3 linked regions of the Homo sapiens genome follow. The protein of the gene in region 1 purifies or fractionates together with the protein of each later gene. This does not show direct contact. Each region holds a gene or a part of one and is shown in the gene's direction. Other genes may lie near its edges.

Region 1 (3,645 bases):
TTGTCTGCATTTGCTTTACAGGAGTGGTCACCATCTCACAACTTGAAGAGCCTGAGAAAGAAGCAACTTGCAACTCGAGAGGCCATGGCCCGCCAGACCGTAGTCTCAGACACAGAGCTGAGTATTGTTGAATCATCTGTGATCAGGTACAGTACAGTGTTTCTTGACACTGTCATTTGTGCCATTAGCATCATGTCTGGGAAGTTGACAAGTATCATCGGAAGGTGTCTATGGTAGCAAGTTGGACTCTGCTTTTGAACATACTTAGTTTCATCTTTCAGTACATACCCAGATTACTAAAAAGATAATTTTATCATTTTTAGTATTGTACTATACTGTTTGTTATAACTAATAACATATGCAGTAATATTCACCCATCAGCATCTAGTAGTAAATGTGCTCATTCCGAGTGCCCTTCTACTCCATACACTTCAGCTTCTGAAATTCAAATGAACATAGCATAGACATACAGATAGATCATATTATCATTTATACACACCAAAGAAAATGTGTTGGGAATCCTAAATTTGTGTATCATCCCCATCCATACCAATCTTACAGATAAAAGGCTTCAGAGATAATGTTGGGTCACTGTACAGCCTCCCTTCTGTTGAGCACAGTTCTATAGCCAAAATCTCTATGAATTTTATTTTTCTTGTGTTAAGTTTAGATCACCATTTCTCTCTGTGCAGGGTAAACTTCCTCTGATGTTGTGGCTGTTAAGGAGTGATTCATGTTTACCCATAATTAGCTGGGCAAATATTAGTTTCAGACTTTTAAAAAAATAGTTTTGGACCTCCTCTTAATGCGTCTGTACTTTGGGCAAGTTAATTAATTATGAGTATCACTCTAGGGGAAAAAAAAACATCTTTATCATATGTTTCACTATCCCAAAGCTTGCTGCAGGAGGCAGAAAGTAAATCTGAACTTAGTCAGAACATCTCTGCCCGGGAACATTTTGTATTTACCGATATTGATGGCCAAGTGTATCATCTCACTGTTGAAGGAAACTCAGTAAAAGACAGTGCTCGGATTCCACCAGATGTGAGTACAACCTTGATTAAATCTTCATCAAGAAGATTTTGTTTTGTTGGTTCCATATCCAGTGAAGGCATAGTTAAGTTGGAAACTTCAGAAAAGCCTAATGTAAATAAACTTTATTTAAGGAGATATTATCGATTAAACTTGTTCCATACTGCTAGAGAATAACGCTGTAACTATTTTGATTAAATGTTTACTGTGTGCTACTCATTTTTATCCCTGTAATAATCCATGAGGAGTTATCTCCATTTTACCCATAACAAAACTGTGGGAGAATAAGTAACTTTCCCAAAGTTATCCAGCTTACTCATATGGCAGAGCAGTGTTTTAAACTCAGGCCTGTCTGACTTCAGTATCTGTCTTCTTTCCATTTCAGGCATTACCCTGAAGGATTTGACTTACAATCTAGTATTATTTTTGGATAATAGTAATCAGGTTGTAAGTGTAATAGTATTATTAACATTTACTAACTTACATATATTCTTATGGCCTTGTGGAATCTGTAACTAAAGTTTTGCCATTAATCATTTGTGTCAGCATGCATCTCATAGATAGTTTTTAATAGATGGATCATGAAAATGTTTATGTTAATTAATGCAGGCTATTATAATGGTTAAATGAAGGCATGAGGGGATTTTTTAAAATAGGTATATTTATTTTAAATTGCTATCTAAAAATGGAATGCTCTAGTAGAATGCCAACCCCCATAATTTTATAGGTGGCTTTGGGGTCTCATAAAGTTACAATCTAGATGTTGGCTGTGGCTACAGTCTTTTGAAGTGTAATGGGACAGAAGGATCTATTTCCAAGTTGGCTGCCTCACAGGCTATTGCACATTAATGCTGGCTGTTGACGAGGGACCTTAGTTCTTCATGTCGATCTTTCCATAAGGCTGCTTGAGTGTCCTCACGACATGACAACTGGCCTCCCCTAGAGTAAGTGATCTGATAAAGCAAGAAGGAAGTTGCAGAGTCTATTATGACCTGGTTTCAGAAGTCTCTTCAAAGGCAACTTCTTAATTAAACATTCTATTTTATGGCTAGGAAAGTAGATATCTTAAAATGTTGCTTCATATTATATACAGAATTTCATTTCTTTAATATTTTTTTTTATTAATGGACTTTATTATAATATTGATTTTTAAATCCAGTTTTTGTTTTGTTTCTTGACTATTACCAGAGTTTTTACGGTATTCAGTGTGTGTGCTAGTCCACTAATGGTCAATTATTCAAACCACTAGAGTTTTCTTACTTTTTACCATGGATACCATTTGAATTTTTATGTTGTACAATAAATGCAAAAATAAAATTTCTTTTAATAAATAGAGAAGTAATTGAGCAGTAATATTATTTAATAGCTAACATGTATTGACTATTTACTGCATGGCAGGCATTGCTTTAAGGCCTTTGCCTTTATAAATTTATTAATACTAGCAACAACTCAAGTTTCATGAACTTACCCTACTTTATGGACAATAAATCCAAGACAGAAAGGTTAAGTAAACATGCCTCAAATCACATACCAGTTTCAAGCTGGGATTCAAGCCCAGGCAGTGTGACTGCAGAGCCCAGGCTGCTGAGCCCTCCATGATACCACCTCTGAGCATCTATTAGAACTGCAAGTTCCTTTCTTCCTCCAAGTTAGATTGACTACAGCAGCATTTCATTCTTATGTTGTGCTTCTATATGTAACTTCTGAGCAAAGCTTTCTGTGAATTTAAACTGCATATGCCTTTAGTAAACAGCATCTCTTCACCTTCATGATTCCACAATGTTCCAAAACGTGTCAGTGAAGCTCTGGATCCTTTTTTCAATAGAAAAATCACGGCACAATTAGTTATAAAAGAGCTTTAAGTTTCCCTTGGAATGGATTTAGTTATCCTTTTGCAGTGAGAGATAAGTTTGAGTTGGCTCTCTGGAAAACCTTCCCTTTACTTCTCTGTTTTTCTTACTTTAATTTCCCCCTTTTTTTTTTGAGGTATTTGTTCCTCAAAAGACATCCCCTCTCTTTAAATCTAGTTCCAGTAACTACTTAATGTCTATGAAGTTGAAATCTCCTATTTCTTCATAGTTGAAATTGATAGGCAATGTAGCTCTTTGTTAGTGTCTAAAGTCTGTTTTAGGATTTGATGACTAAAAGCATACTAAAGCACAGCCCTTTAAATTAAGTTTTATTAAAATATTTATTATAATGTCTTATACAGCATAGTGAAATTTATATTTGTTTGTTGCTGTTGTTTTCTAGGGAAGTATGGGTAGTATTACCTGCATCGCTTGGAAAGGTGATACATTAGTGCTTGGAGATATGGATGGAAATTTAAATTTCTGGGACTTGAAAGGCAGAGTATCCAGGTATAAGCCAAGAATGAAATCTTGTTATTTCATTAAAAAAAAGAAATGAAATCTTTTTGTTTTGTTTTGTTGAGATGGTGTCTTGCTCTGTCGCCCAGGCTGGAGTGCAGTGGTGCAATCTCGGCTCACTGCAAGCTCTGACTCCCGGGTTCATGCCATTCTCCTGCCTCAGCCACCCGAGTAGCTGGGACTACAGGCACCCACCACCACGCCCGGCTAATTTTTTTGTATTTTTTTAGTAGAGACGGGATTT
Region 2 (3,645 bases), on another chromosome or scaffold:
GCCTAGTTCCTCTCGCAGCTTTCCCGTCTGACTGCTCCCAAATTCCCCAGGTATGAGCAGAGCGAGTGGGGCTGGAAGGACCGAGAGAAACGGGAGGAAATGACAGATGACCGAGCCTGGTACCTCATCGCGTGGGAAAACAGCTCCGTCCCTGTTGCCTTTTCTCACTTCCGGTTTGACGTGGAGTGTGGGGATGAAGTCCTGTACTGGTAGGAGCCATGGCTTGGGGGAGGTAGGGGAGAGAGACCCTGGCGATGTTCCAGGCACTCCAGCCAGGTGACAAAGCCCCTGGACCTACCTAGGTCTATGAGCTGCCAAGGACTGCAAGCTCCTCTGCCAGACCTTACAGCCTCTTCATGTCCCATCCTGCACGCTCACCTCTCTGCTTTCTTCACCTAGCTATGAAGTGCAGTTGGAAAGCAAGGTGCGGCGGAAAGGCCTGGGGAAGTTCCTCATACAGATCCTGCAGCTCATGGCCAACAGGTAAGGCCTCCCTTCTTAGGAGGCCCATATAGCACTCAGTTGGAAGGAGCTGTCACTGAGGCACTTGCCATTCTTTGAGCCTTGTTGGAGGAGGAGGCTCATAGGCATGTTTTGGGAGAAAGGTGTCTTAGAACCCTCTCAGTAAGATGCTCCCTGCCTTATTATGACTCCAGATTTTGTTTGTTTAGCTCAGTGCAGTGAACATCTTTTTTTTTTTTTTTTTTTTGAGACAGAGTTTCACTCTTGTTGCCCGGGCTGGAGTGCAATGGTGCCATCTTGGCTCACTGCAGCCTCCACGTACCGGGTTTAAGCAATTCTTCTGCTCAGCCTCCCAAGTGGCTGGGATTACAGGCGCGCACTGCCATGCCTGGCTAATTTTTGTATTTTTAGTAGAGACGGGGTTTCTCCATGTTAAGGCTGGTCTCGAACTCCTGACCTCAGGTGATCTACCTACCTCAGCCTCCCAAAGTGCTGGGATTACAGGCATGAGCCACCACACCTGGCCAGTGAGCATCTTTTGAGTTTCTAATCTCTGCCACCTTCTGTACCGAAGTAATGGTGCTACAGAGAGGAAGTGGGAAACATCCTTGCTCTGGAAGAAGCCAGTCTGGTCAGGGCCGATGCCTGTGCAGTCTGATCAGCCTGTGATGGGGGAAGCAGTGAGTGCTGTGTGGGGGTCCAAGACCTCCAGAGGCTAGAGGCCAAATTCAGGAACACTCGTGTGGGTGAAAGGGAGGTAACAGACAAAGGCAGAAAGGAAAGGAAGCATGACCTTAGTCTCTGTGTCTTTTCTTTTTTGAGACAGGGTCTCACCCTGTCACCCAGGCTGGAGTGCAGTGGTGTGATCGTATCTCACTGCAGCCTCTACCTCCCAGGCTCAAGTGATCCTCTAGCCTCAGCCTCTGGAGTAGCTGGGACTAAAGGCACATGCCACTATACTGGGCTGATTTTTTTAAATTTTTAAATGTTTTGTAGAAATGGGGTCCCACTATGTTTTCCAGGCTGGTCTCTAACTCCTGGGCTCAAATGATCCTCCCACCTTTGCCCCTCAAAGTGCTGGGATTACAGGTGCATGCCACCATGCCTGGCCATGTTTCTCTTTCTAAAAGGCGTTTGCTCTGCTTTCTTCCAGCACACAGATGAAGAAGGTTATGTTAACAGTATTTAAACACAATCATGGTGCCTACCAGTTCTTCAGAGAAGCGTTGCAGTAAGGAGCTGGGTGTGGGCCCTTCTGGGTGGTAGGTGGGCCTGCCCAGGGCCATTTTTCTGGTCCTGGCCCTCACTCATTCTGATGCCTGAGCTCATGGTCCAGTGGTCCATGGGGGTTCAGGTTCAGGGAGATGGTATGGCAGTGCTCTCTGATTTGGTCCACTGTCCACCTCCTGCACCCTCATCCTAAGGGTCTCATCAGTGTGGCTGGTAGAAGAGTTCTCGGGCCAGGGAGGAAGGCACTCAGCTGCCTGCCACCAACCCTTTTCTCCTGCCTGCCTTGCAGATTTGAAATTGATGACTCTTCCCCCAGCATGTCCGGTTGCTGTGGGGAGGATTGCTCCTATGAGATCCTGAGCCGGAGGACCAAGTTTGGGGACAGCCATCACTCCCACGCGGGTGGGCACTGTGGTGGCTGCTGCCACTGAACTCTCAGAGCCACTTTCAAGTCACAATGCTCTCTCCTAAGGCCTTTCCTCTTTCCTGGTCTCACTGTTCACCGGGTGTCCTCAGAGCTGTGGCCTCCCCAGCCCTGCACGTGCCAGGCTGCGCCCTGAGAGCACAGAACCCTGGGGAGAAGTGGTATCAGCTGCTCCTCCTCTCCTAGGAGACCAGAGTGCTAGAAGGGAATGAAAGGGAGAGGGAAGAGTAGGTGGGGCCGGGCAGTGAAGCTCATCCTCCACAGTGGCTGCCTCCTCATTTGGCTCCTGGGGCCTGCAGTGGAGGTTCTCGCACCTCTGCAGCCCCTAGATTCCTGGCAACCTCCCCTCCCCTGACACATACACACTTGGACAAATGGAATGTTTATGTCCACCTTTATGAAAGTTCTGGAGTCCTGGGTCTGGGGTTTGCTGGTCCCCAAAGAGGAACACACTGGGTGTAAGATCTGGGTGTAGAGGGCGGCTTCAGAGAGACTCACGCTTGCGCAGTTGGAATTGCTGTTAACGGAGACTGGGAAGATCTTTTGTGCCAAGATGCAGGGAAATGAAGAAAGCTCTTTCCAGCTGTTTTTATGGATTCATGGAGTGGGCTCATGTTGGGACCAGCTGACTCTGGGAGGAAGACTGCCTCTCCATCGCTGTCAGAGAGCCTGAAAGGACCAACAATGAGGTGTTCTTGGGACCCGCCATGGGGATGATTGCTTCTCTAGGCTCCTGGATGTTGCTGCATTCTAAGCTTAACCTCCTGGTCTCATGGCAGTGACTTGAGCTTTTGATTCATAGAAGAAAGCCAGAGGTTCTGCTTGTTCTTGTCTGCCAGCCCTCGTCGTTCTTTCTCCTCTGCCTCTCACCTCTACCCCAAATACCTCTGTTCTTAGTCTCAAGGGGAGAATAACATCAGGGAGCCCCTCATCTTCCCCAGAAGGACTTCTCGTTCCTCATGTAGTTAACTCCATTGATTTTCCTATCTTGGTGCTGATAGCTCTCTAAGGGTAGGGCACACCTCCCCACAGCCACCCTCCCTCTTCAGAGAGCCCCCAGCCAGCAGCAGGCCCCTCTGCCTGCACTCCTCAGGCTTGCCCCTCGCTGCCTCAGTGAGGCACTAGTGCCACTGCCGTGGCCCAGCCGGGCCATAGCTCAGGCTGCAGCAGAAATGCCTCTCAGTGGCCAACAGTTGCTTTTCTCTCTGGTGTCACCCTGTGGCAACAGGCTGGAGCAGGGGAAGGAGAAAGCCTTCCTCTTCTCTCATAGGATAGAAAGGCAGGCTCAGAACTAATGCTCATCCTGATCTCTAGGCCTTGTTCCTCTTCCAGGGAAGAAAAGCCAAATCCTTATCAAGGAAAAAGCACCTAACAGCTCCCTTTGGATATCCCTGAGCTCTGCTGTGGGGAGTATCATAAAGGTTCTAGCCTTCGTGAAGTTGTTCTCGTGGAGGTCTGTTGGTCCCTCTGACCTCAGCATCTGCTCACATCCCACCCTCTGCCCAACTCTGGCAGTCTCTCCTGGCAGA
Region 3 (4,161 bases), on another chromosome or scaffold:
GGGGCGTCAGGAGGCCCAACCCAGATCTGCGCGCCCAGGCAGCGCTCAGGCCGCTAGAATGGACCCCGGCAGCGGCGAGGAAGCGGAACTCTCTGCGGCTCCCTCTCCGCAGTGCGCCGGCAAGGTCCAGGTCCCAGCCTCCCCACCGCCGCCCGCGCCCTCCTAGGCCTCGGAGCGGCGCCTTTCTGCGGCCTCGAAGGTGGGGTGGGAAAGTTTGGGGAGTCCCGGCTCTCACAGCCTGTCGTGAGAACTGCCCCCGGGGAATTCGTCCGCCGTACGGAAAAACTGGCCGGAGCAGAGTCGTCCGCGGTTCCGCGGTCGCGGGTGGAAGGTGAAGGTCGAGGGAGGTCAGGCTGCTTCTGCGTGTCCTGACGGCTGGCGTGTTCTCTTGAGATGGGCTCGGGCTACTTGGCCAGCTTCAATTTAAGCCACAGTGTCTCCGAGGCCCTGACCTGGTCCGGCCCGCCGACACTTGAGCCCCCAGAGCCTCAGAGAAGGCGAGGGGGTGGATCTCCCAGTGCCGAGGCCCGCCGTCCTGGTCCAAGCCGGTCGCGGCACCGTGTCTGGGCACTGGAGCTGCTTCCAGCCCCGCGAACAGCTGGAGGGTGGCAGTGGGACCGCTCCGGCGGCTTCTCCCGCGCAGTGCCCCGCCTGGCCCCTTGTGAAGGGAGTGAGCGTCCCCTTTCCAGAGCTGTCCCCCGTGACATCCAGAAAACGCGAAACCTCAGGAACAAGGTCGCAGCTTCAGACCGCGGCCCAGGAGGCCGATGGTGGGTGAGTGGGAGAGTCCCGGAGAGCAGGGGGGCAGAGAGCTGGTTTTCGGGAAAACCAATGTGTTGGACCCCAAACATCCACCCTCCGCTCGGATCCAAGTTCTCTGAGAACTGAAACGACATCCCGGGACGAATGGGAGAGTTAGGCTGAGCTACACACCGGGGAGGGGAGGGTTGGAGTTTAGCCCCAAGCCCTTCGGACGCCTTCTTCGGCTCCCGCGTGGGTTGAGACGGCGGCACGGCCACCAGACTCAGCTAAAGGGCGGAGTCGCGAGGAGAAGCCAGTGGCGAGGGGAGGAGGAGGCCTGGATCTCCCCGCGAAGGCTCCAGTCCGGCTTTTGCCTCCGACTGCGGGCTCCCTCCCCACCCGCCGTCCCTCGCCCCGCCCCGCCCCGCCCCCCACCTTGGGGCAGGTGAGCGGCGGCCAATGGGCGAGCGCGGGGCAGGTGCCCGCTAACTCGCGCCTCGCAGCGCTGGGCGGCCGGGGCTGGGCAGGGCAGTGCGGGGACACCGGGGGCTGGGGTCGGTCCCAGCGGGACTCCGAAAGGAGGGAGACGAGCTCAACCCTCGGGCCTTACTGGCAGCTCGCAGCCTAGCACGGAGCCCGCGCCTGTGCGGGCGCCTGGAGCTGCCCGCTCCGCCGCAGCAGCCGCCGCGCCTGGCCGTACGCTGTGGCCGGACCCCGCGGTCGCTCGCTCACACACCCCTCGCCGCTCCGCGCCTGGCTCGCCCGCGGGGGCCGAGCGCGAGCGGGCGGGCGGGGGAGGTGAGGGGTGCGGGCGGGTGTGCATGTGCCTGGCTGGGTGCACACCCCGCAAGGCGGCGGCGCCAGGACGCGGAGCGCTCCCCAGAGCCCGGCTGCCTCGCACAGCTCCCGCGGCTGCGACCATGTTCCAGCCCGCGGCCAAGCGCGGCTTTACCATAGAGTCCTTGGTGGCCAAGGACGGCGGCACCGGCGGGGGCACTGGCGGCGGGGGCGCGGGCTCCCATCTCCTGGCGGCGGCCGCCTCCGAGGAACCGCTCCGGCCCACGGCGCTCAACTACCCTCACCCCAGCGCGGCCGAGGCGGCCTTCGTGAGTGGCTTCCCTGCCGCGGCCGCCGCGGGCGCGGGCCGCTCGCTCTACGGTGGGCCCGAGCTCGTGTTCCCCGAGGCCATGAACCACCCCGCGCTGACCGTGCATCCGGCGCACCAGCTGGGCGCCTCCCCGCTGCAGCCCCCGCACTCCTTCTTCGGCGCCCAGCACCGGGACCCTCTCCATTTCTACCCCTGGGTCCTGCGGAACCGCTTCTTCGGCCACCGCTTCCAGGGTGAGTGTCCACGCTGTGCCCGCCGAGGCGGCCGGCCGGCGCCCGTGCTGCGGCGATGCGGGGGAGGCTCGGGGGCGCGCGGGGCTGTTTAGAAGTTACTGCCGGGAAGGCTGCAGGTCCGCGGAGGTAGATTCCCAGGCAGGGAAGAGCTGTGCGGCATCCACCCGCGCCTTCGCCGCGTAGGTCTCCCTCCCAGGAAAGCAGGTGGAGACCTCCAGGCTTTTCTAGAAAATATACCAGTTCGGACGCAAGCCCAGGCGCGTCCTCGGAGCCTGTGCTGGCCCTCGCCACAGCCTGCCCAATTCTCTCTCCCAGCTGAGCCAGTCTCAGACCAGAGTACAACTCCTCCCGCTCTCCCTCCGCCCGGCTTAACCTCGCACCACGCTTCTCTCGCAAGTCCACCACCACCTCCGAGACCTCAGCCTTCGCTGGCGCGTCCGGGCGGGGGAAAGTCCATTCGCGTGCCCCAGCTCTGGGGGAAGCAAGGGCAGCAGGGAGGGCGAATCGGAGAGTTAATGTTCAGTGTGGAGGGCCTGGCTGTCTTGGGATGTTTCTCGGCAACCTTGGCCCGACTTCTCCAAGTCACACGTGCCTCTCCTACCCAAGGTGGGGAAGGTTTGCAGTAAGCAAACTGGCTTCCGCCGTTGCTCGCCGCCTTCGGGAGGGAGCCCACCCGGCTGCTGGAATACCGAGGACAGTTTTCCCGGGCAGGGGGCGGGGGCAGAGGGCTTTTAAGGTCGTAGCCAGTCCGAACCCCGGAGTTTGCATCCAGCAATCGGCTTGCTAATAAAGATCCTCCACTGGCCCTACACACACACACACACACACACACACACACACACACACGTTTCAATTATTTGTCTTTCCCGGAGAAAAGAGAGTTGCATTTGTTGGAGTTCGTTTTCTTCCTTGAAATTTGTTGGAGTTTGTTTTTTTCTTTTCTTTTTTTTTAAATTTTATTTTAAAGAGTGGCCTTGATTTGTACAGGCATCACTTTAGTTTCCAGTTTTATTTTGTTAGTGTAGACCAGACCACAGCCTTGTGAGAAGGGTCTATGGCTCAGAGCTAGGTAACCCGGCTTTTAGAGAAACAAATGAAAGGGACATGGCTGGAGCTTCGGCTCCAGGAGCTAATGTGACGGTCTGTAGTCTAGGTCTACAGTCAATTAGATGTTTGGCACAGTTGTTTAGATAATAAAATGAAAATTATCTCTTGACACTTTGACTTTCACAGAAAACCGCTTTCCCAGGTCCCGATTTGTCAGGCAATTTTTTCAGTCCCACCTGGCCAATAGATGCTGACCTGGCAGATACCACAAAACCAGAGAATGTAATTACTAGAATAAGAATTGTTGTGGGTAGCCTTGCCTCCTCTTTGAAGATTTCAAAGACTTGCCCAAATCCAAATCCGAAAAAACAAAAATGCTACAATGTCATCTGCCTTGGGCAAGAGTTTCTGCCACTTAAAAATAAATGTTTACTGATAACATGAGGATATCTTTAAAATTGAGCAATCTACCCTGGTCCTCCGTGGGCTCGATCCGAAGCCTGGGTCTCGAAACCTGGCGCCCAGGGGCCGAGTTGTAGTTGGGGCGGTGTGTGAGCCCGCGGGCCGCCGCGGCCGAGGGGCTGGCGGGTTGGAGGCTTGTGGAGGGATAGGGGCTCGGAGGAGAGGGCGGGGTCGTTCCTAAGTCCTGTGGCCTCCAGCCGTTCAGCTTGTCCGGAGTCGGCATCCTGGGCCGCACCCTCGGCTTCGAATCCAGCCCCTGACGCCCTCCGCACCGCGGTTCCTGCCTCCGGGCGCCGAGGGCCGGGGGCGCCTGGAGAGAAATCCAGCTCCGGCTCTGAGCGTCTCCAGTCAGGCGAGGCGGATAAATCCTTCGCAAAACCCTCTTGGAAATTGCCGCCGCTTCCTGAGCCATCAGTCCCAGCGGGTACGTTATCGAGTAGCACAAACAGTTGGATTTTTCCCTCAAGAACCGAGTCTGGACGCGGAGATGGAGCCAAGTGTGGCTGCATTTTCGGACCCGGAAATCCGTTGGGCACTGAAGGACTTTTCGAACCCTGTAGCGCTGTTGCT

What was found.
Region 2: the proteins of WDR11 (region 1) and NAA40 fractionate together in Homo sapiens (co-fractionation; one large-scale study listed by BioGRID). This does not show direct contact.
Region 3: the proteins of WDR11 (region 1) and EMX1 purify together in Homo sapiens (co-immunoprecipitation; one study listed by IntAct). This does not show direct contact.

The regions. Positions count from the first base shown.
Region 1 is NC_000010.11:120,885,793-120,889,437, forward strand, and holds part of WDR11 (WD repeat-containing protein 11), read left to right. Parts: intron 1-21; coding exon 22-146; intron 147-896; coding exon 897-1,044; intron 1,045-3,285; coding exon 3,286-3,392; intron 3,393-3,645. UniProt on the Homo sapiens protein: Involved in the Hedgehog (Hh) signaling pathway, is essential for normal ciliogenesis.
Region 2 is NC_000011.10:63,952,357-63,956,001, forward strand, and holds part of NAA40 (N-alpha-acetyltransferase 40), read left to right. Parts: intron 1-50; coding exon 51-209; intron 210-399; coding exon 400-483; intron 484-1,615; coding exon 1,616-1,693; intron 1,694-1,981; coding exon 1,982-2,123; 3' UTR 2,124-3,645. UniProt on the Homo sapiens protein: N-alpha-acetyltransferase that specifically mediates the acetylation of the N-terminal residues of histones H4 and H2A.
Region 3 is NC_000002.12:72,916,291-72,920,451, forward strand, and holds the start of EMX1 (homeobox protein EMX1), read left to right. Parts: upstream 1-1,228; 5' UTR 1,229-1,562; coding exon 1,563-2,082; intron 2,083-4,161. UniProt on the Homo sapiens protein: Transcription factor, which in cooperation with EMX2, acts to generate the boundary between the roof and archipallium in the developing brain. May function in combinations with OTX1/2 to specify cell fates in the developing central nervous system.